7 linked regions of the Homo sapiens genome follow. The main gene of each other region encodes a partner of the protein of the gene in region 3 in a complex. Each region holds a gene or a part of one and is shown on either strand. Other genes may lie near its edges. The genes, in order: MKS1, TMEM67, TMEM17, B9D2, AHI1, TCTN1 and CEP290.

What was found.
Region 1: TMEM17 (region 3) and MKS1 share a complex: the UniProt entries of both Homo sapiens proteins name them as parts of the tectonic-like complex.
Region 2: TMEM17 (region 3) and TMEM67 share a complex: the UniProt entries of both Homo sapiens proteins name them as parts of the tectonic-like complex.
Region 4: TMEM17 (region 3) and B9D2 share a complex: the UniProt entries of both Homo sapiens proteins name them as parts of the tectonic-like complex.
Region 5: TMEM17 (region 3) and AHI1 share a complex: the UniProt entries of both Homo sapiens proteins name them as parts of the tectonic-like complex.
Region 6: TMEM17 (region 3) and TCTN1 share a complex: the UniProt entries of both Homo sapiens proteins name them as parts of the tectonic-like complex.
Region 7: TMEM17 (region 3) and CEP290 share a complex: the UniProt entries of both Homo sapiens proteins name them as parts of the tectonic-like complex.

Annotation. Positions count from the first base shown.
Region 1 is NC_000017.11:58,207,099-58,209,255, forward strand, and holds part of MKS1 (tectonic-like complex member MKS1), read right to left. Parts: intron 1,486-2,157; coding exon 1,415-1,485; exon of another isoform or gene 1,410-1,414; intron 1,077-1,409; coding exon 1,007-1,076; intron 904-1,006; coding exon 796-903; intron 632-795; coding exon of another isoform or gene 606-631; exon of another isoform or gene 463-605; intron 121-462; coding exon 1-120. UniProt on the Homo sapiens protein: Component of the tectonic-like complex, a complex localized at the transition zone of primary cilia and acting as a barrier that prevents diffusion of transmembrane proteins between the cilia and plasma membranes.
Region 2 is NC_000008.11:93,792,894-93,796,393, reverse strand, and holds part of TMEM67 (meckelin isoform 1 precursor), read right to left. Parts: intron 3,197-3,500; coding exon 3,098-3,196; intron 986-3,097; coding exon 887-985; intron 494-886; coding exon 407-493; intron 1-406. UniProt on the Homo sapiens protein: Required for ciliary structure and function. Part of the tectonic-like complex which is required for tissue-specific ciliogenesis and may regulate ciliary membrane composition.
Region 3 is NC_000002.12:62,499,718-62,503,195, reverse strand, and holds the end of TMEM17 (transmembrane protein 17), read left to right. Parts: intron 1-401; coding exon 402-505; intron 506-645; coding exon 646-759; intron 760-1,708; coding exon 1,709-1,987; 3' UTR 1,988-2,978; downstream 2,979-3,478. UniProt on the Homo sapiens protein: Transmembrane component of the tectonic-like complex, a complex localized at the transition zone of primary cilia and acting as a barrier that prevents diffusion of transmembrane proteins between the cilia and plasma membranes.
Region 4 is NC_000019.10:41,357,650-41,361,149, forward strand, and holds part of B9D2 (B9 domain-containing protein 2), read right to left. Parts: intron 374-3,500; coding exon 248-373; intron 1-247. UniProt on the Homo sapiens protein: Component of the tectonic-like complex, a complex localized at the transition zone of primary cilia and acting as a barrier that prevents diffusion of transmembrane proteins between the cilia and plasma membranes.
Region 5 is NC_000006.12:135,456,241-135,459,740, forward strand, and holds part of AHI1 (jouberin), read right to left. Parts: intron 1,474-3,500; coding exon 1,254-1,473; intron 1-1,253. UniProt on the Homo sapiens protein: Involved in vesicle trafficking and required for ciliogenesis, formation of primary non-motile cilium, and recruitment of RAB8A to the basal body of primary cilium.
Region 6 is NC_000012.12:110,627,629-110,631,128, forward strand, and holds part of TCTN1 (tectonic-1 isoform 1 precursor), read left to right. Parts: intron 1-301; exon of another isoform or gene 302-596; intron 597-1,138; coding exon 1,139-1,290; coding exon of another isoform or gene 1,291-1,404; exon of another isoform or gene 1,405-2,629; intron 2,630-3,500. UniProt on the Homo sapiens protein: Component of the tectonic-like complex, a complex localized at the transition zone of primary cilia and acting as a barrier that prevents diffusion of transmembrane proteins between the cilia and plasma membranes.
Region 7 is NC_000012.12:88,132,089-88,135,588, reverse strand, and holds part of CEP290 (centrosomal protein of 290 kDa), read left to right. Parts: intron 1-3,500. UniProt on the Homo sapiens protein: Involved in early and late steps in cilia formation. Its association with CCP110 is required for inhibition of primary cilia formation by CCP110.

The sequences.
Region 1 (2,157 bases), on a different chromosome or scaffold from region 3:
GTATCCGTACATAGGAGAGGTCCTCCAGTTCCAGAGAACCGCCAATGAAAAACCTCCTCAGCTCAGCCACCGTGCCAAGCTCCACAGGTCTCCACGTGGAGACTGTCAGGGTGTGTGAGCCTGCGCAAGGGAAGAGAAGACTGGGGCCAGGTCCAGAAAGGGCATGTGGCCCCTCACTGACTCCCCAGCAATGACACAGGCCTAGACTCAGCTAAAACACCTGGTCTGGTGATGACCTGGCCTCTGGTGCAGGTTATCATGGTTACCCATAGCACCTGTATGGAAATCAATCAGGGAGAAATTCAAATTTCCGCTCTGCCAGTTATTACCTGCATACCCAGGACAGGTTTCTTAACCTCTCTGAAGCTCATTCTCCTCATCTAGTAAAATGGAAATAATACCACCTGCACCTCACAGAGTGACTGGGAGAATTAAGTGAGAAGTATGGCACAATGCCTGGCACACAGTAAAAGACAGATGCTTTTATTCCAAACTGAATGCTGATTCATTCAATACACATATGCTATGAGCCAATTTTGCCATACAGCTTCTCACCCTGAGTCCAATCAGAGGAGCATGAAGCACATGGAGAGACTGTCAGGAAGTCAGTGCCAAGGCCACGTCATTGTCGCTAATGGAGGGGGGCAGAAAGTCCTCAGAGGAACAGGAACTCTTTCAAGCCAAACATTTCCAATTCCCAATTATCTCCACCCCTCACCAGAAGCATTCGAGTGTTAGTCTTGTTCTTAGGGCCTAGGGCATGTGGGCCACAGAAGGGCAGAGACGAGCGGTTACCTGGAGTGGCAGGCAGCACCACAGCCCCATAGCCTTCCACACGGTACCTCTGCCAGAAGTCCAGCGAGAGGACCTCACAGTAGAGCACAGGCCACTCCGGGAGTGCATCTGGGAGCAAGGAGAGAAGCGGCCAGGTCACAGGCGGCCTTCACCAAGAGACAGCACTGCTTGAGGGGAACCAAGGCCCAGGATCAACTGCTGAGCTACTCACCAGAAGATTCATCCTCATGGAGGAAGAAGGCTTCAAACGTGAATGGGTAGGAGAAGTGAGCCACCTTGTCCTATAAAAAGGAGTGTCATAGGGTGGGCAAGGCCTCCCTTGGAATCTGTTCTCCTTGTGGCCAATGACAAGGTTATCTTCACAAGGGAAAAAGAAAAATTATCACCCAGGTGGGAAATAGGAGTCTGAGATGCAAAAGGACACCCAAATACAAGCTGCTGCCATGCTCAAAAAGACAGACAGGATCTCCGGACCAGGTGGCCCTGTAGAACCCACACACAAGTCACCCAACTCTGGAATCCTCCCCAGGGCGCACAGCACTTGGCCTGATAAAACCTCAAATGCCATCCCAGGAGCAGATCTCATTCCCTTCCAGATACCCGCTCTCATTCTCCATACCATTGCCAGGGACTTGGTGGTGCAGGTCTGTGTTACTCCTGAGAGCTGCTGGAATGCTGGGCTTGACCAGTCTGAAAGCCAAAGACCAAATATAGTAAGCTCGCCTGGGAGGAAAGCAAGTCATTCAGAAAAAGACAGTTTCTTTTTTCTTTTCTTTTTTTTTTTTGTATTTATTGATCATTCTTGGGTGTTTCTCGGAGAGGGGGATGTGGCAGGGTCATAGGATAATAGTGGAGAGAAGGTCAGCAGATAAACACGTGAACAAAGGTCTCTGGTTCTCCTAGGCAGAGGTCCCTGCGGCCTTCCACAGTGTTTGTGTCCCTGGGTACTTGAGATTAGGGAGTGGTGATGACTCTTAAGGAGCATGCTGCCTTCAAGCACCTGTTTAACAAAGCACATCTTGCACCGCCCTTAATCCATTTAACCTTGAGTTGACACAGCACATGTTTCAGAGAGCACGGGGTTGGGGGTAAGGTTATAGATTAACAGCATCCCAAGGCAGAAGAATTTTTCTTAGTACAGAACAAAATGGAGTCTCCTATGTCTACTTCTTTCTACACAGACACAGTAACAATCTGATCTCTCTTTCTTTTCCCCACATTTCCCCCTTTTCTTTTTGACAAAACCGCCATCGTCATCATGGCCCATTCTCAATGGTCGCTGTCTCTTCGGAGCTGTTGGGTACACCTCCCAGATGGGGCGGCCGGGCAGAGGCGCTCCTCACTTCCCAGACGGGGCGGACA
Region 2 (3,500 bases), on a different chromosome or scaffold from region 3:
GAGCAAAGGAATCTGGAGACAGACAAAACAACTTTTAAGATCTCAACACTTTATCCAGAGTGGTACCTTTTACCCTTGATTAATGGAGACAAAATTCATGCCTGAAGACATTTTGTCCCATTGTGAATGTATCATCAGACTTTAAAGAAAGTTATATACTGAAATATCATTTTATCAAATAAGCCATACAAATTCATGGCTTCTTTGAAAAAAATATTTAAGGCAGAGTTTCAGACTGAGCATCTACTATAAATAAAAGTAAATTTACCACATAAAATAATTAATGCTTTCTTTCAAAACCAAAGTGAATTTCACGCCAAAGATTTTTGAAAGCATTTTAATTTTAAAGACTTGTTAGTTCATTAGCAGGCCTTTTAAATTTGGTAACCTGTCCTTTAAAACTTACCTTCAGAGCAAAGGCACATCCAACATAAGTGACAAAACGTTCTTCCTGAATTGGCATTGGCAGCAAAACAGACACAGACTTCTGTGCCTATAATAAAAATTACTTGATTAAATATTATCACACACAGTTTTTTTTGTTTGTTTGTTTGTTTTTTGTTTTCGTTTTTGTTTTTTTTTGGGAAAGGAGGGTCTCAGTATGCTGCCCGGGCAGGACTTGATTCTGGACTCACAGGATCCTCCCACCTAAGTCTTCCAATTGAACAAGGTTTTTACTAAGCACAATTTATAAACCAAAGAAAGCATAAAAGAGGAAGATAGTGATGTAATCGATAAGCTCAGCACACTCAAGGAATGGGGAGTTGGGAACTTTTCTTAATACTGTTGATCAAAAATTCTCTCAAATAAAAATAGTTCCTTTATAAAGAAAGCTTTTCAACTATTCAGATATTGGCAGTTGGGGAAAATTCAGAAACTCACTCACTTTGAAGAAAATAAGCCAGTAAAGACCTGTTCCCACTGTGATGATAAAGAAAACATTGGCCAGATCACCAGCATAGTACACCAAGAATTTCACAACTGTCTGCAATTTAAAAAAAAGAATTACAGCTGTTTAAGACTCCATGTATATACCACTTTTAGTAACACTACCACTTTTATACATCATCCACTCCATTTCTTAAGCCTGAAGCCTTGTTTCACATATCCCCATATGATCCAGCTATAAAGACCACCTGCTTCCTCCTCCTTGCTACCTTTTGGCTCCTTACCTTTCTGGCCGTTCCTGGTAGCCTCTTCTTTCAACTCTTCTCATCTTTCACTATCTAAGAAAATTGAACTGCTTCCTAATTTTCTCTTAGTTGGGAATCCTCCCCTCTAATCTCTCCTCCACACTACCACCAGAGTTAGTTTTCTAAGATGTAAATTGGATTGTGTCACTCCCCTTGTTAAAAATGAACAACTCCTCATTGCAATATAAATTCCTGATCCACAAGGTCTTTCACAATATGGGCCAAAATTAACTTTTTAGCCTCATCTGCCAGTTCCAGCCATGTAGTCAATGACTAACCACTCCATACGTTCATCTCAAATACTTTCTGGAATAAAATGGGCATTGTTTTACCAAATATTCTTCTCTTCCCCTCTCTGGTAAGTTCTCATGATTTCTGAGAGCACAGACTATGTCTGTCTTTGCTCACTAACACATTCTCCAGCTCCTGGTAGAGTGCCAGACACTTAGACAATAGAGCCTCAGTGACTATTATAGAATGAACAGATAATCCCACTTAAAGTTCATTTCTCTGGGAAGCCTTTCTGGACTATCCCAAGTAGTAAATCAAGTACCCCTGCTGATTCCTTAGCCCACTGGCTTTGGAATCAGAAAGATACTTTGGTTAAAGCTACCATGTAACCTTTCTCATGTTCTTCATCAACAAAACGGAAATACCTATTACTGAGTTGCAAAAATCAAGTGAGTAGAAAATTTAACCTTTACCTCAATTTCATCACGTGTAAAACGCAAATAATAATAATAACCTAACTTCAAAGAGCTACTGTGCGGATTCAGAAAATTACATACATAAAGCTTTAAAAAGTGCCTGGTACATGGTAAATATTTTTTAAATGTTTAATAAAAATAAAAGGTTAACCATGAAGTGAAAGTATAAAGTTAATAGAATAAAATGTGGACTATCTTTGTGATCTTGATATAGGGACGGTTTTCCTAAACAAGATCCCAAAAGCACGTATCATAACATGAAAAAAAATATTCAGATATGATGATATCAAAACCAAAAGTTTCTGGCCAGGCGTGGTGGCTCATGCCTGTAATCCCAGCACTTTGGGAGGCTGAGGTGGGCGGATCATGAGGCCAGGAGTTCAAGACCAGCCTGAACAACATGGTGAAACCCCGTCTCTACTAAAAATACAAAAATTAGCCAGGCATGGTGGTGTGCGCCTGTAATTCCAGCTACTCAGGAGGCTGAGGCAGGAGAATTGCTTGAACCCGGGAGGCAGAGGTTGCAAGTGAACCAAGATTGTGCCTCTGCACTCCAGCCTCAGCGACAGAGTGAGACTCCGTCTCAAAAAAACAACAACAAAAAAAAACAAAAATGAAAACAAAAACAAACCTGAAAGTTTCTGTTAAACAAAGGACTACATGGATAAAAATAACGGATGGGTCACATATTTATTTGGTCATATATTTCAACATCAGAAACCAAAAAGGGGTTACTATTTAGAAAATACAAAAAAAAATTCTTCAAATAAACAATAAAAACTGGAAACATAATAGAGAAATGGGCAAGGGATATAAACAGGCAGTTCACAGAAGGAGAAACCCAAACGATTAAAATGTATATGAAGAGTACAGAGAAATGAAAATGAAATCAACAATGACATACTACTATATGCCATGAGGTTGGCAAAAAATGAAAAGGTTGGAAAAATATCAAGTGTTGCCAAGTATGTGCAGAAATAAGAAGAGCATTGCTGGTGGGAATATAGACTGGCATACAGTATGGTGGGAAGAAAATGAGGTACACATATACCATATGACCCAGCAATACTTACCCTAATTACATATCCCAGAAAAATTCAATGCAACTTTTTTACTTATTCTCTAGCTGTGTCTTATGAGAAGGATCCAGAATGGTCAAAAGATAAAAATATTCTTAAAAAACTCCTGAGATTATACCTGTAAATCAATCATGGGACTCCCAATGCGCCTCTTCCATCCTGCTGTCTTCAAAAGAGATGCTAAAACAGCTAGCCCACCCAATACACCCAAAGCAATCTAAAAAACAAAAGAACAATTGAGAATTTATGTAATTTCTGTCATCGGTGTTCAAAAACACTGTGAACAAGTAAGGAAGTGCTCAAAAAAATGGTGGGGTGGGAAATGTTGAAAGGACACAGGAGTCAGCCGGGCACAGTGGCTCACACCTGTAATCCCAGCACTTTGGGAGGCCGAGGCAGGCGGATCATGAGGTCAGGAGATCAAGACCATCCTGGCTAACACGGTGAAACCCGTCTCTACTAAAAATACAAAAAATTAGCTGGGCATGGTGGTGGGTGCCTGTAGTCCCAGCTACTGGGGA
Region 3 (3,478 bases):
TATCTGTGGGAGATTCATTTTTATTTATTTTATGCATTAATTTTATATGCTATTTACATAGAATTCTACAAAAGAGGCAATGATAATTATCTGTTGAATAGGATTTATGTTGATATTCTACATTAAATCTATACCAGTAGTATATGCCAAAAAGTCAGAAGACTGTAATGGCAAAATGGTAAAATAATTGAAAAATATGAAACGTACCCCCAAATAGCCAATATTTGACCTAACTGGTATTAGGATGAATATTCCTTTTACTGTCAATGATTATAAATAGGCATAAAATTTGGTGTTTTACTGAGCCAATATTATAGTTATTAATTCTAGGGAATAGGATATATATATATAGGGCATAAACCCAAGATTCATCATTTGTTCCTTTTCTGTTCCTTCTGTAGAAAATGAAATGGTCTCCAGTTTGGCACTGCAGATGTCACTTTATTTTAATACCTACTATTTCCCACTGTGGTGGGTGAGCAGCATTATGATGCTTCACATGAAGGTAAATCTAAGCTTTAATACTTTTGCTGCCCTGACGTTGTTAGAGTGTCAATAAAATTCAAGTTCTTAATAATTTTTTCTATCTTAAATCAATGTTACTATACATGAGATTTTACAAACATGTTTTGGCTTTTCTTTTAGTATTCAATCTTACCTGACTACTACAAATTCATTGTGATCACTGTTATCATCCTAATAACCTTAATTGAAGCCATCCGGTTGTATCTGGGCTACGTGGGTAACCTACAGGAGAAGGTAAGCTCTTTTTTCCTTTCTCTCAGTGATAGATATAAATGAAATCAGTTTTCATAACAAGTAAAAGGCAGTGAGGTGTGGCAGAAAGAGCACAGGCCTGAATTTAAAGCCTGACTCCAGCTTTACCACTTCTGTCACTGTGGTCTGTTTGCTTAATCTCTTGAGCCCTGGTTTCCTCATATATAAAATGAGGAAAATAATATTTACTTCACAGGTTTGTTGTGATTAAGTGAAATGATTTATGTAAAGTATATGAATGTAGTAAACACTTAAAATTGATATTTTCCCTCTTCTTATCAGTCTTGAAAATACATGGTTACTTAAACATGTGTATTTGGATCCTGAATAAGAAAATGGGGGAAAATTATGAATTCATTTCCTATGCCAGGCCCATGTTTTCTGCATCATCATGCTGCCTAAGCATTTGTGGTTACCAGAGTATAGGGATAATGCCTAAAGATTCCCGTGGTTTTCTAGGCCCTTCATAATAAGGCCCCACCCAGCCTGTCTTACTGTAGGTTTTGCTGTTTTCTCACTCAGCCATCCATTCCAGGCTGATGTGCTGATTCCCAATCATGCTAATTTCACGTGTTTGCTTACTTACCTTTTTGCCTCTTCCTTCTTCTCCACAACTTAAAAAGCCTACCTCCCTGAGGTCTTTCTTTCACCTACCCTAATCACTCCCTTATTTCTTGTAGCATTTAGTCTGTACTTCTAAATATTGCACTTAATTGTTCACTAAAGTGTAGTATTCTAGGATTGTTTTACATGAATTAGTTTTCTCATCTAGACTGTAAGTTCTCTGAGGACAAGGACCATGTCATCCTCCTTTGGAATCACTCACAGAGCCCATAATGTAGGTTCACGGTAGTGATAAGTACTTGTTTATCTGTATAAACAGAAACTGTATTTTACTGATTTTTATTACTCTTGATATGTGTCATTGCAGGTTCCTGAGTTGGCTGGCTTTTGGCTTTTGAGCCTTCTATTGCAGTTACCTTTAATTCTTTTCTTGCTCTTTAATGAAGGCCTAACAAATCTGCCCTTGGAAAAAGCGATACATATCATCTTCACTCTCTTCCTTGCTTTCCAAGTTGTTGCAGCATTTCTTACCTTAAGGAAAATGGTTAATCAGTTGGCAGTTCGTTTCCACCTCCAAGACTTTGACCGGCTCTCTGCAAACAGAGGAGACATGAGAAGGATGAGGTCATGTATAGAAGAGATCTGATCCAGTGTTGTTGAGTGAAAATCTGACAGATCATTCTAGAGACTGTAAGAGTTAGGAAAATATCAGAGCTCTGAGAAAAGGGACAAAGCAAGTGTTTTGAATTGTATATGCTCTCACTCTGAAATTCCAAGGTTGGGGGCAATGATGAAACTTTGTACAGTATATGAAACAGTATATTAACCCTAAAACCTAGATGTTGTCCACCTGATGCCAAATTTCTTAATTTTTTTTGATGTTGTTGTCTTTTTCAGGAGTGTAGAAATCTATGTATTGGTGGTTGTCATTTGCCAGCTCTCTCGTAGCATTTCTGGTTAGAATCTTTAACTAGAGATGTATACATTTCTTTAAAACTTGTTGGTTATCCATGTCTTGTCTGTACATATGACCATGTTTCTTGACATGGAAATACCAGTCAGTGTTCCTATGTATTTGTCTATATTTGTAAACCAAGAGACCGGCTGGGTGTGGTGGCTCACGCCTGTAATCCCAGCACTTTGGGAGGCCGAGGTGGGCAGATCATGAGGTCAGAAGATCGAGACCATCCTGGCTAACACGGTGAAACCCAGCCTCTACTAAAAATACAAAAAAAAAAAAAATTAGCTAGGCGTGGTTGCAGGCACCTGTAGTCCCAGCTACTTGGGAGGCTGAGGCAGGAGAATGGTGTGAACCCAGGAGGCAGAGCTTGCAGTGAGCCGAGATCAAGCCACTGTACTCCATCCTGGGTGACAGAGCAAGACTCCATCTCAAAAAAATAAATAAATAAAAAATAAAACAAGAGACCAAATTTTCATGTCTGCTAGGGTTAAATTCTAACCCTAATATTAGCTGTTATACTGAGATGAAGAAGAAAACAGGTGGATTGCCTTGGTATTTAGGAAATATTTTTGTTATAAAATTACAACTTTCATAAAACCATATTCAGTATTTGTAATGGTGGTATACAAAATGCTTTTACAATAAATTATTAAATATTTAAGGTATCAGCAGCAAATCATCCTTGTCTTGTGCAATTATTTTGGGCTATAGATTTGTGTTTTTTATTACAGAGTTGCAAGAGAAGGAAGGAAAACAAATCCTAGAGAACTTTCTATGTAGTGGGCACTGTAGTAGGCATTTTAAATTAGCACTTGTGATTGCATCTACTAGGTTCTTGTTCACCAAAGAACTGCTTCATACCCATTAAATTCACGTGAGGCTTGATTTGGAAACCAGAGCGCCTCTTAATACATATGAGAGCTAAGATGGCCAAAGGGACTATACTCATGATCCTAAATGAGCATGCTCCCTTGCTAATAGGAGAAATCTATTTTAGGAGAATTGGTTAAGAACAAAGTTGCTTGGGTGTATCTGAACATTATATTTAAGTGACTGTTGGACTGTCTTAATGGATATGATATGTTCATTACAGGTTTTCTTTTTTTCTATAGGGAAATGGGCCTTCATAATGTATTTTACTGAGGGACAGTTGTAGCTGCATTAAAAACTGCTCTT
Region 4 (3,500 bases), on a different chromosome or scaffold from region 3:
CTGACCCCCCACCTTCCCACCTCCTGCTCCACCCTGGCCTCTGCCCTAATCATACAAACTTGGGATCGCCTATTGAGCAGGCCTGGGAAGGCCTTAGCTCAGCCTCTCCAGGGCCAGACTTGGCTGCAAAAGGGACCTACGTGGTATGGGGAGCAGGGACAGGTCTTGGTGTTCCCAGCCCCAGGGACCTCAGAGGCTACTGGCCCCCTCCCCTCAGCCTGGACCCGGGTCCAGGTGTGATACCCACCTTGAAGACCTTTGGTGGCGAAGTGCAGGTCGATGGGGTGGGACCAGTAAGCCATGTCCCCTATCTGCGGGGTGTCCACTTGCGTTTGGCCCTCCCGCACGCCTGACAGGAGCTTCCATGCCGCCCCTGCAGTGAGAGCCGGGACATAGAGGGGTGGGAGGCAGCCATCGGGAAGGGGATGCCGCTGTGGCTATAGGACTGTTTCTCTGTGGCATCTACTGGTAGGGGTTACGAAGCATGGACTCTGGAACCAAGTATCTGGGTTCAAATCCTGGCACTACCTCTTCCTGCCTCTGCAACCTTGGGCAAGTTAGCTTTCTCTGCCTTGGTCTCCCCATCTATAAAATGAGCTGAGTAATAATGCATTCCTCATTGTCTTCATTTGTTTTCTGTTACTCTTAACATAATATCCAAAACTGGATAATTTATAAAGAAAAGGAATTTCTATCTCACAGTTATAGGAGACTGACCAAGGTGGAGGAGCCCCATCTAGTAAGAGCCTTCTTGCTGGAACTCTTCAGAGAGTCCCAAGGCTAGTGTGCTAACATGCCACTCACGTCTCTCTCTCTCATTTTATAAAGCCACCACTTCCTCTCCCATGATAACCCACTAATCCATTAACCCATTAATCCATGAATGGGTAATGAGCATAGTGAGCACGGGATAAGTCTTCAATATCATTTTATTACGATTCTCACCCCATATTTTCAAGCCTAGTCCAAGGATTAAGATGGGGCCAAGGGTACCCTCCAGGAGCGCATCCTGAAACACACATAACAATTTCGATCCTACTGAGGGGTGATAATGATAGCTAAAATGCACTGAGTGGTAGGATACAGTGGCTCACACCTGTAATCTCAGCACTTTGGGAGGCCAAGGCAGGTAGATCCCTTGAGTCCAGGAGTTCAAGACCAGCCTGACCAACATGGCAAAACCCCATCTCTACAAATAATATAAAAATTAAGGCTGAGCGCAGTGGCTCACACCTCTAATCCCAGCACTTTAGGAGGCTTAGGGGGGGGTGGATCATCTAAGGTCAGGAGTTCAAGACCAGCCTGGCCAACATGGCAAAACCTCGTCTCTACTAAAAATACAAAAATTAGTCTGGAGTGGTGGCAGGTGCCTGTAATCCCAGGTACTCGGGAGGCTGAGGCACGAGAATCGCTGGAAAAGCTGCAGTGAGCCGAGATTGCACCACTGCACTCCAGCTGGTGTGACACAGTGAGACTCCATCTCAAAAAATGAACAAACAAGCCAGGCGCAGTGACTCACGCCTGTAATCTCAGCACTTTGGGAGGCTGAGGCGGGCTGATCACCTGAGGTCAGGAGTTTGAGACCAGCCCGGCCAACATGGCGAAATCCCATCTCTACTAAAAATACAAAAATTAGGATGGGCGCAGTGGCTCACATCTGTAATCCTAGCACTTTGGGAAGCCAAGGCAGGTGGATCACTTGAGGTCAGGGGTTCGAGACCAGCCTGGCCAAAATGGTAAAACTCTGTCTCTACTAAAAACACACACACACACACCCACAAAATTAGCCACGTCTGTAATCCCAGCACTTTGGGAGACTAAGGCAGGCAGATCACAAGGTCAAGAGATCGAGACCATCCTGGCCAACATTCTGAAACCCTATCTCTACTAAAAAAATACAAAAATTAGCTGGGTGTGGTGGCGCACGCCCATAGTCCCAGCTACTCAGGAGGCTGAGGCAGGAGAATCACTTGAACCCAGGAGGCGGAGGTTGCAGTGAGCCAAGATGGTCCCATTGCACTCCAGCCTGGGCAACAAGAGCGAAATTCCATCTAAAAAAAAAAAGAAAAGAAAAAAAGAAAATGCACCGAGTACTAACTAAATCCCAGATGCTATGCTAAGTACTTTAAGCATCCATTCATTTAATCCACCCTCTAGGACTCTTAATCCCCTCCTCACCCCCCAGTTTACAGACCCTCCACCATGGCCCACGTGGCCTGGCTCTTGCTCCCCTCCCTGAGTTCATCTCCCATCACTCTCCCCCTCCCTCATCACCCTCTGGCCTCACTGTCCCACTTCTGACTCCCCACCTCAGGGCCTTTGCACTGGCTGTTCCCTCTGCCTAGAAAGCTCTGCTCCTGGGTGTCCCCATCCCTAGCTTTTGTTTTCATCCTTCAGGGCCCAGCTCAAGTGCCACTTCCACAGAGGGGTTCTCCCTGACCCTCTTCACCAAACACTAGTCCCTGCCACATCATTTCTTTTCATCCTAGCACTTACCACTGTCTGGAATCACGGTGCTCCTTTCTTTTTTTGGGGGGGTGGGGGGAGACAAGATCTCCCTCTGTCACCCAGGCTGGAGTGCAGTGGCACAATCACAGCTCACTACAACCTTGACCTCCCAGGATCAAGCAATCCTCCCACCTCAACCTCCCAAGTAGTTGGGACGACAGGCACACAGCACTATGCTTTGCTAATTTTTTATTTATTTGTAGAGACGGGGGTCTCACTATGTTGCCCAGGCTGGTCTCAAACTCCTGGGCTCAAGTGATCCTCCTGCTCCAGTCTCCCAAAGTGCTGGCATTACAGGGGTGAGTCACCACACCCAACTGCACTCGTTTATCTGTTTATTTATTTTATTTTATTTATTTTTTTTTGAGACAGACTTTTGCTCTTGTTGCCCAAGCTGGAGTGCAATGGCACCATCTCGGCTCACTGCAACCTCCGCCTCCTGGGTTCAAGCGATTCTCCTGCCTCAGCCTCTCGAGTAGCTGGGATTACAGGCACACGCCGCCATGCCCAGCTAATTTTTTTTGTATTTTTAGTAGAAATGGGGTTTTACCATGTTAGCCAGGCTGGTCTCAAACTCCTGACCTCAGGTGATCTGCCCGCCTCGGACTCCCAAAGTGCTGGGATTACAGGCATGAGCCACCGCGCCTGGCCTGCTTATTTATTTTCTGTCTCCCCTACTGTATGGCCCAGGAAAACAGGGACCTTGCACACTGCTGGATCCCCAAGACCACAAACCCAGCTCTTGGTATACAGAAGGTGCTCAATAAATGTTTCTTGGACAAATAAGTGATCCTAGGAGGTGGGAGCTAATATAATCCCCATTTAACAGGTAAAGAAACAGGCTCTGAGAAGGTGAGTTCATGAACATTTATTCAGCACCTGCTATGTGCCAAGCACTGTTTTCCATGCTGGTGACATAGCAGTGACTATAGCAGACCAAGGTCCCATCATGGGACTGGATTCAGACTCAGCTCTAACTGCAGAGCCCAAGC
Region 5 (3,500 bases), on a different chromosome or scaffold from region 3:
TTATAATAAAATAGACATTGCCAGGCACAGCGGCTCAAGCCTGTAACCCCAGCACTTTGGGAGGCTGAGGCAGGTGGACTGCTTGAGCTCAGGAGTTTGGGACCAGCCTGGGTAACATGATGAAACCTCGTTTCTACAAAAAATAGAAAAAAAGTTAGCTGGGCATGGTGGCACATGTCTGCAGTCCCAGCTACGTGGGAGTCTGAGGTGGGAGGATCACCTGAGCCCAGGGAGGTTGAGGCTGTAGTAAGCTGTGATTGCACCACTGCACTCCAGCCAGTGAGACGCAGTGAGATATTGTCTCAAAAAAAAAAAAAAAAGACATAAAATTGATTTTACATAAAAAAGGCACAAGACTGTAAACCCTTTGAGTTGTCATATTTTCTTTGTGTGCCCTAAGGCAAATGAATAGGTGAATGGGCTTTTTTTGGACAATCTTCCTGTTTCCATTCCCCACTGGCTTTCCAAACAATTTTTTAAAAAATTCTAGTATAAATGTGTATTTCATTGTACTTTTCATTTGGGATTTCAAGCATGCATTAGCTATAGAAGTACTCTTAGAAAAAACATTCAAGATTCATTTACCTTACCTGAAGCCCAGATAACATTACTTTCAAAAGAAAAATATGAGGTTAGACAATTAAAGCATTTACAATGCAATATAAAATATTTACAATGCAACTTTATGTCATAAATTACATCTACTAAGCTGGCAGAAGCTCTCTACCACTTAAAATGAATTATTCCCTTCCACTTAAAAGTAATTACTGAGCCAGGCACGGTGGGTCATGCCTGTAATCCCAGCACTTTGGGAGGGTGAGGCAGGTAGATCGCCTGAGGTCAGGAGTTCGAGATCATCCTGGCCAAACCCCGCCTCCACTAAAAATACAAAAATTAGCCAGGAGTGGTGGCGAGTGCCTGTAATCCCAGCTACTTGGGAGGCTGAGGCAGTAGAATCGCTTGAACCCAGGAGGCAGAGGTTGCAGTGAGCCAAGATTGAGCACTGCATTCCAGCCTGGGCGACAAAGCGAGACTCCATCTCGGAAAAAAAGTAATTACTGAATTAGATGTTCTCCATTTCTTCTACAACATTCTGATCAATGTTAATGACTGATGAACACCTACAACTAGTAGACTATTCTCTAATACAAATCCATAACTCTATTCCCACTGACTTTCAACTACCAATGGCAGAAAAAAGACTTCTACTAGTTTCAGTTTCAAGAATTAGTTGTGCAATTAAAAAAAATTACCTATCATCTTTCTTGACATATTGACCAGTATGCTCATCAACCACATGAATTTTTACCATTGGGTGAGAAATCATAAAATCTGACTTAAGTCTATCAGTTCGGTGAATGTAAACTCCCAAGACAAGGTCATCATCAAGCAAACATTTGGGATAAACCGGGCTATCTCGGCTTGTTATTTCATGAACACCATCACCATCAACATCTTCATTATTATCTGCAACTACACGCATGGAAAAAAAAATCAATGTTATAATTAGTTGTTCCCATAGTAGTATTTACATATAACCTAATCTTTAAGATCTGTGATGATCTCACTGTGTTCAAAGGAACTTCAGGGGGAAAGAAAGAAAAAGCCAGACAACAGCAAACCATAGTGTGAAAGTAAAATACTACATTTGCTAATACATTACAAATAAGGTGAAAAATCCTTGTTTATATTTTTCCTAATAAGTAGGAGAAACACAAAAAGAAAAAAAAGAGAGTCAAAGTCAGAAAAGTAACTTTATCCAGGTATTTTCTAAGTAGAATATATATGACAACTAGAATTTCTAATTCTGGGTGGGATGCAGTAGGATGCAGCAGGTAAACACTTTGGGTAACAACTGGAAAGAGCCAAATAAATTACAAATATCTTATTTTAAATTTTAAAGGCATCAGAAAAGTACAGAAAGAAGATATAGTAGACAGATTAAAATTCCAGAAAGGGAGAATCAGTCAGAGGTCAGCTGATGGACTGGCAGCTGTTTTTGTCTCTGGGGACATTTGCTGATTCAGGGTGTGAGCTGAAGATGAGAGTTTGGCTTAGGCAGAAAGTCACTGCCAGGAGAATGAGAAATAAGCAAAACTTTTAGTGATTCCACAGGACTAAAATGATAAAACTGGAGATTTGAGAAGCCTCAAACACATGACCAATTCTTCTCACAAAACTGAATTCTGATGCTACAGAGAAGCTAGAGAGGTAGTGAAATCTCCCAGGCTTGTGGTGCTAGCAGACCATGATCTGCCAGGGGAAGGGGACCAAAACAAAATAGGCAAAGGTGAAGCCCTGGAGGGTGTGGTCAATTTACACTAAGGACCAAGAGCAACTTTTCATCTGGGGTCATCTACCAATTCTGGTCACAGTTCTAGGTTGATAATCCAGGTGTGATTTCTGGCAGAAGGTTGCTACTGAGGGACAGAGAAACCAGCGGATATTTTGGCATGCTTGGGGGCTACAGTGACAAAAATGGATACCTGAAGGATGTCTAACATATAGCCAGTCTCCTGCTCAAAGAATTTGCCAAATTTTGAAGCAGCATGAGACAGAAGACTAAATGGCTAAGTGGAAAAGCACTGAAGGGCAAAACTGGATCTCCCATCGTATTTAGGGCTATGAATTATTAGAGATAAAGAAGGGCGCTGCATTATGATAAAAGTGATAACTTGACAAGAGATACAAGAAAAATAAACTGAAAATCGGAATGGAAATGTTAATACCTCTCTCAACAGCTGACAGAATAAGTAGACCAAAAAAATTAATAAGAAGAACTGAGCACAATTAAACTTGACCTAACTGACATACATAGGACACTGCACTCAACATTAGAAATTGCATTCTTTTCAAATGAGCATGGAATATTTACCAAATCTGACCATAAAATGGTCATTAAAAAGGCCTCAATAAACTCAGAGGATTGAAATCATTCATAATATGTTATCTGACAACAATGGAAGACAGAAACCAATAAAAGATAACTAGAAAAGCATCTGCTGCCTGAAACTAAGCAACATACTTCTAAATAATGATCAATTAAAATGGAAATTAGAAAATATTTTGTGTTAAATAATAAAAACACACAATATTAAAAATTTTGGAGATGCAGGTAAAGTAGTACTTAAATGGGAATTTAGTCTTAAATGCATATAAAAGAAGACTGAAATCTTTCTTATAAAACCCAATTTTAAAGCTAGAAATAAGTAGCAAATCAAACCCAAATAAGTACAAAGAAGGAAAATACAGTTACAAGAAAAAAAATCACTAAAATAGTACATAAATGTACAACAGAGAAAATCAAAGCTAAAGGTTGGTTTTTGAAAAGACTCATAAATTTAAAATCCTAAGGCTGATCAAGAAATTGAGAGAAAACAAACTGCCAATACCATGAATGAAAACATGGGACAGCCTTTCAGATGCTATAGAAATGCAAAATTTGGATGAAATAGACACATCCCTCAAAAACTACAGTATATCAAATAGCTGACAGAAGT
Region 6 (3,500 bases), on a different chromosome or scaffold from region 3:
TTAACTTTATTTCCTCCTGGTTTAATGGTTGAAAATCAGGCTCAGCTTTGAACATTACCTGTGGTTTCTATTTCCTTTTTTCTTTTATTTTTACTAAGAATATTTGCATGAAAACAGGATCTTTATTTTTATCTGAGCATTTAGCTCAAATATATGTCTAGATCCAAAGTACATGTACATGTAAAATGTTATCAGGATATCAAAGATCAGAGACACGTTTATGCTTTTATTTGTCAAATTCTGTCATATTTTCAGAATATCTTTATAGATTTTGGTTTTGTTCTCTTGTGATTGAAAACAGGCAGATGCTCTGTGTGATTTGTAATCTGAAGTGATAACTGGCCAGTGACTGTCAGGTTCTCTGTCGTAACACCAGCCCAGTGAACATGCCAGCCTGCTTCCTTCTCTCTCTTCTGTACACAGCACATTTTACTCCAGGACTTTCACGGTGGCTGTGTGAGAGTAGAAGTCGGATTCTTTCATTCCCATAGCCATCCGGAGAGAGCTTCTCCTTACAGGTTGATACAGCAAACTCATCAGTCCAGGGGCTAGAGAAATAGACGGATTATTATTGGCTTCTGTTGTGCTGTTTACTTGTAAGTGCTACAAACTATTACTTCCCCATTATTAGAAGAAGCAGGCTGAGTCTGGAGGTCCTGTTTGTTTAATAAGCTTTAAAAAATCCTGGGAGAAGTGAATATGGAAAAATACACTTTTTTTTTTTTTTTTTGAGATGAAGTCTCACTGTGTCACCCAGGCTGGAGTGCAGTGGCGCTATCTCAGCTCACTGCAACCTCTGCCTGCTGGGTTTCAGCGATTCTCCTGCCTCAGCCTCCCGAGTAGCTGGGATTACAGGTGCACACCACCATGACTGGCTAATTTTTGTATTTTTAGTAGAGACAGGATTTCACCGTGTTGGCCAGGCTGGTCTCAAACTCCTGACCTCAGGCAGTCCGCCCGCCTTGGCCTCCCAAAGTGTTGAGATTACAGGCGTGAGCCCATGCGCCCAGCCAAGACACTATTTGTTTTTTACATCAGCCTTGATGCTATTAAAAACTTTCCAAAACCTTTATATAGGTCATACATATTATACATATATTTTATACCGATTTAAAATACTGTTTTTTTTAAAAAACAGATAAACCTGCATTATCCTTTATTAATCCAGAAGTACCTGATGAAAACAATTTTGATACATTGATGAAAACATCTGATGGTTTTACATTGAATGCTGAATCATATGTTTCCTTCACAACCAAACTGGATATTCCTACTGCTGCTAAATATGAGGTGAGCCTGAACTTGATTGATTCTTTTCATCCCATCACAAATATCTTTCCTTGTAAGTTAATTTTCAAGGTTACCAGGAAAACTGGGTTCCTTGAGACAGAGTTGATATTATAGACTAAAAAACTTAATGTTCATGCCTACAAATCAAAGATCATGAAAATTAAAACTGAATATTTGAAGATGGATTAAAGACTTAAATGTAAGACCTAAAACCATACAAACCCTAGAAGAAAACCCAGGCAATACCATTCAGGACATAGACATGGGCAAAGACATCATGAGTAAAACAACCAAAAGCAATGGCAACAAAAGCCAAAATTGACAAATGGGATCTAATTAAACTAAAGAGCTTCTGCACAGCAAAAGAAACTATCATCAGAGTGAACGTGTGACCTACAGAATGGGAAAAAATTTTTGCAATCTATCCATATGACAAAGGGCTAATATCCAGAATCTACAAGGAACTTAAATAAATTTACAAGAAAAAAACAACCCCATCAAAAAGTGGGTGAAGGATATGAATAGACACTTTTCAAAAGAAGACATTTAAGTGGCCAACGAACCTATGAAAAAAGGCTCATCATCACTGGTCATTAGAGAAATGCAAATCAAAACTGCAATCAGATACCATCTCACGCCAGTTAGAATGACGATTATTAAGAAGTCAGGAAACAACAGGTGCTGGAGAGGATATGGAGAAATAGGAACGCTTTTACACTGTTGGGTGGGAGTGTAAATTATTTCAACCATTGTGGAAGACAGTGCGGCGATTCCTCAAGGATCTAGAACCTAAAATACCATTTGACCCAGCAATTCCATTACTGAGTATATACCCAAAGGATTATAAATCATTCTATAAAGACACACGCACACGTATGTTTATTGCAGCACTATTCACAATAGCAAAGACTTGGAACCAACCCAAATGTCCATCAGTGATAGACTGGGTGAAGAAAATGTGGCACATACACAACATGGAATGCTAAGCAGCCATAAAAAAGGATGAGTTCATGTCCTTTGTAGGAAACCATCATTCTCAGCAAACTAACATGGAACAGAAAACCAAACATCGCATGTTCTCACTCATAAGTGGGAGTTGAACAATGAGAACACATGGACACAGGGAGGGGAACATCACACACAGGGGCCTGTCAGAGGGTGGTGGGCTAGGGGAGGGGATAGCATTAGGAGAAACACCTAATGTAGATGATGGGTTGATGAGTGCAGTAAACCACCATGGCACGTGTATACCTACGTAACAAACCTGCATGTTCTGCACCCGTTATCCCAGAACTTAAAATATAATAATAAAAATAAAACTGAATATTTGAATTCTGAATAGAGGATTTAAGGTTGTTTATTCTGTGATAAACTTGTATTTTGTCTCTTCAGAGTTCTTTGTTCTCCTCAACCTTAAAAGATGCAGCAAAATGCTTGAGGCATGTTGCTGAGATCATGGAGTAGATTGGTTGGTTGTCTGGTCATCTTCTCAAAATTGTATTTAGTTTTACAGATTTTGGAAGATGTGTGCTGTTTTATGTCTATTCAGTAGTACACCTTTAAATGGGACACATATTAACTGAATGAACCTTAACTCTTTTGGAAGCATCTTTTTAAAAGCAAAGTATAAAAGCAACATGTACTAGTTCTAAAAGTTCAACATATAGAGGCATATAAGTTGAAAGATCCCTGTATCCATTAATATTCATACTGCAAATCACTTTGAAGAGATTGGTGTGTATTCTTCCTGATTTTTAAATATGTCTATTATAATGTATATATGGTGTTGTATAGAAGTGGGATTTATAGGTATCCACATTGTTCTAGAAAATTCCTTTTTCAGTGATAAATCATGTGCATCTTCCCATGTCAATATAAAATTTACCATTGAGCATTTTCCATGTGCCAGGCACTGTGAAGAGCTTTTCAGGCATTACTTCATGCACCCCCCTGGGAGGGATGCACCATTGTCTCCATTTACCTGATGAGAAAAACTTAGGCACAGGAAAGCAACTTGTCAGAACTAGTGATAGAGCTGCGTTGTTGTTGTTGTTGTTGTTGTTTTTGAGATGGAGTCTTGCTGTGTCGCCCAGGCTGGAGTGCAGTGGTGTGATCTTGGCTCACTGCAACCTCCGCCTCTCAGGTTCAAGCAATTCTCCCACCTCAGCCTCCCAAGTAGCTGGGATTGCAGGCACCTGCCATCATGATCA
Region 7 (3,500 bases), on a different chromosome or scaffold from region 3:
AATGTGGTAGAGAAAGTATGGATCGATGCCACTTAAATGTTAGGAAGAAGCTCTTAGAGCATTATCTGTTTAGCTAACTGCAAAACATAGCAGACATGTGGATTTTTTAATAGTCATCAAGGATCTAACTTATAATATACACTGGTAGAATTGCTTAGGGGGATGTCTGTGGTTTTCTGGACTTTTGTTCTTCTATATAGACCTGTATCAGTTGACTTATCATTCATACCACACACCCTTAGCTAATCAGAACTACCTTGTCCATTTATATCTTAGACTATTGTCTTTTTTCATAGTCACACACAGAGAAAACTTGAATATATGGCCTGTGTTCCTTTTTGGCTGCTCAATTCCTTGAGATGAAATATGGGTATGGGTTGCTTTGGCAATTACTTCTTTGCCGTTAACCAGTCATTCAGTTTTATTGAGTCTTTACAGCATACCAGAGGCTGCTAGTTACTAGTGATATAGTGGGCAACTATGTTCTGGTTCTCAAGAATATTCATAGTCAATAATAAGCATAACATAGTGATAATATGATACTTAGGGAGATACATAAGGTCATATTCTGGCATACTCTGGAGAGAGATACCGTAATCAGCCTTGAGGTGCAGGATGTGATCTGTAAACTGAGACCTGAAGTATAGTTAGACTGGTAAGAGGAATGAGGATATATATGGTGGTTAATAAAAGAACATTCTGGGTAGAAGATATAGCATTTGCTAAGACCTAGAGGTAAGAGATGTTATGGAGTATTTAGGAAACTACAGTTATTCATTTTGACTGAAATATAAGTGAAAATAGCTTTCATAGAGTCCTTACTATGTGCCAGGCACTTCATATGCATTAATTCATTATTGCTTATTTGATACTTGTCATATGAGATAGTTGTCATTTCTGCCATGATACAGATGAAGAAATGGAGACACAGAAAGAGTAATTGCCCATGGTTGCACAGCTTATAAATGGTAAAGGTAGGATTTGAAAACAGTCTTACTCAAGAGTCTGTGCTATCTTGCCTTCCCAGTTTTATTTTTTATGATCCTCTGGAGAGATAAGCAAGGGCCAGTTCCTAATGAATTTGGTTCTTTTCCTGAAAGGAGCCAGTGAAGAGTTTTGAGCACAGGATATCATGATCAGATCTATACTTTAAAAGTTTACTGTACTTTGTAGAGAGTGGATTGAAAAGGGCCAAGACTAGTAAGGAAACATTTGTGTTAATTCAGGGAAGTGCTAATGATGGCATTTGCCTGAGAAAGACAAGTGTGAGAGAAGTAGATGTAATTGGATGTGGTGAATGTAATTGGTTGTTGGAGGAGAGGGAGGATGGAGAGTCTGCCTAATTTTGTGGGTTGGGCCACTAAATAGGTAGATAGTGCCATTCATTAAGGAGGAACACAAGAGGAATTTGGAAAGCTTGAGATTATTTCAGTTTTGTAGATGTTGAGTTTGAGGTTCTTCTGGGCATATTCAAAAAGGGTATCTGTGGATATGGAATTCACAAGAGACCCTGTACAGATGATGAGGATTTATGAATCATCAATGTAGACATTATTGAAGCCAGAGAAGTGATTGTAAGGCACGTCTCTGAGAAATGTCTAATAAAGCAATGAAATAGGAAGAGTGCTTCAAGGAAAAGCTCAAGAAAGGAGAAACAGAGTGTGATGTTTGAGAAGACAAGGGAAAAAAACATTAATAGCATTAAATGCTTTAGCATTAAGTTCTTGGCTTCTCTTCTTGTAAAAATTTCCCAATTCAGAACACAGTGGGATTATTAACTTTCAATTGATAATAATAATGATAGGCAAACTTCTAAAATTTGTATTGTAGTTTGCATTTTATTATAAACTTTCTTTAAATTTTTATTTTGAAAAATGTCATATCTTCATAAAGATTGTAAGAAACACACTGTTGGTGTTAATGTAAATTAGTTCAACCATTGTGGGAGACAGTGTGGCAATTCCTCGAAGATCTAGAAGCAGAAATACCACTTGACCCAGCAATCCCATTACTGGGTATATACCCAAAAGAATATAAATCATTTTCTTATAAAGATACTTGCACACATATGTTCATTGCAGCACTATTCACAATAGCAAAGACATGGAATCAACCCAAATGCTCATCAATGATAGACTGGATAATGAAAATGTGGAACATATACATCATAGAATACTATGCAGCCATCAAAAGAGAATGAGAGGTCAAGCGTGGTGACTCATGCCTACAGTCCCAGCACTTTGGGAGGCCGAGGCAGGCAGATCACTTGAGGTCAGGAGTTCAAGACCAGCCTGGCCAGTATGGTGAAACCCCATCTCTACAAAAACAAAACAAAACAAACAAAAATTAACTGGTCATGGTACTGTATGCCTGCAGTCCCAGCTACTTGGGAGGCTGAGGCAGGAGAATGACTTGAACCCAGAAGGCAGAGGTTGCAGTGAGCTGAGATCGCACCACTGGACTCTAGCCTTAGCAACAAAACTAGAGTTTGTCTCAAAAAAAAAAAAAAAAAAAAACCGGAACAAGATCATGTCCTTTGCAGGGACATGGGATGGAGGTGGAAGCCATTATCCTCAGCAAACTCACACAGGAACAGAAAACCAAACACTGCATGTTCTCACTTATAAGTGGGAGCTGAACAATGAGAACACATGGACACATGGTGGGGAACAACACACACTGGGACCCGTCAAGGGGTCGGGGTGGGAGAACATCAGGAAGAATAGCTAATGGATGCTGGGCTTAATATCTAGGTTATGGGTTGATCTGTGCAGCAAGCCACCATTGTACACATTTACCTAAGTAACAAACCTGCACATCTTACACATGTACCCCAGAACTTAAAAGTTGATGGGAAAAAGAAAAACAATAACCACCCACATACCCTTCATATAGATTCACCAGTTCTTAATGTTGTGCCAACTTTGCTTTATCTTTTTGTCAGTATTTTTACACACACATGTATTTCTCTGTCTCTTGTTTGTTCAATCACATTTTTTGCTGAGTCATTTAAGAGCTAATTGCAGATATGATACTTTGCACTTAAATATTTCAGCTTGTCTGTTTGAAAAAGAAAGATGTTCTCCTACAATGAACACAATATAATTGTCATGCTCAGGAATTTTAATATTGATTCAACACCATTATCTAGTCCATAATGAGATTTCTTCTAATGGCCCAATAATATCCTTCAGTCTCCCCACCTCCAATATCCAAAGTTCTGTCAAGGATCACATACTACATTTGGTTCTTTATTATAGACTTTTTAAATATCGTTGTATACCATTGTGATTCTATCGTCTCCTTTAATAAAGAGGAGAACCAGAAAAATGAAAGGTCATAAGAGGAATGAGGTTTGGAGAATAGGTGAAAAAAGGCATCATAATGTTTATAATAATGTTTGCCTGTTCAGAGAAACAAGAATCACAGATAAAGTCACTTATATGTAGATAAGAGAATGCTGTATTACTTTTTGCTATTCTATTCACTGATCATTTTTC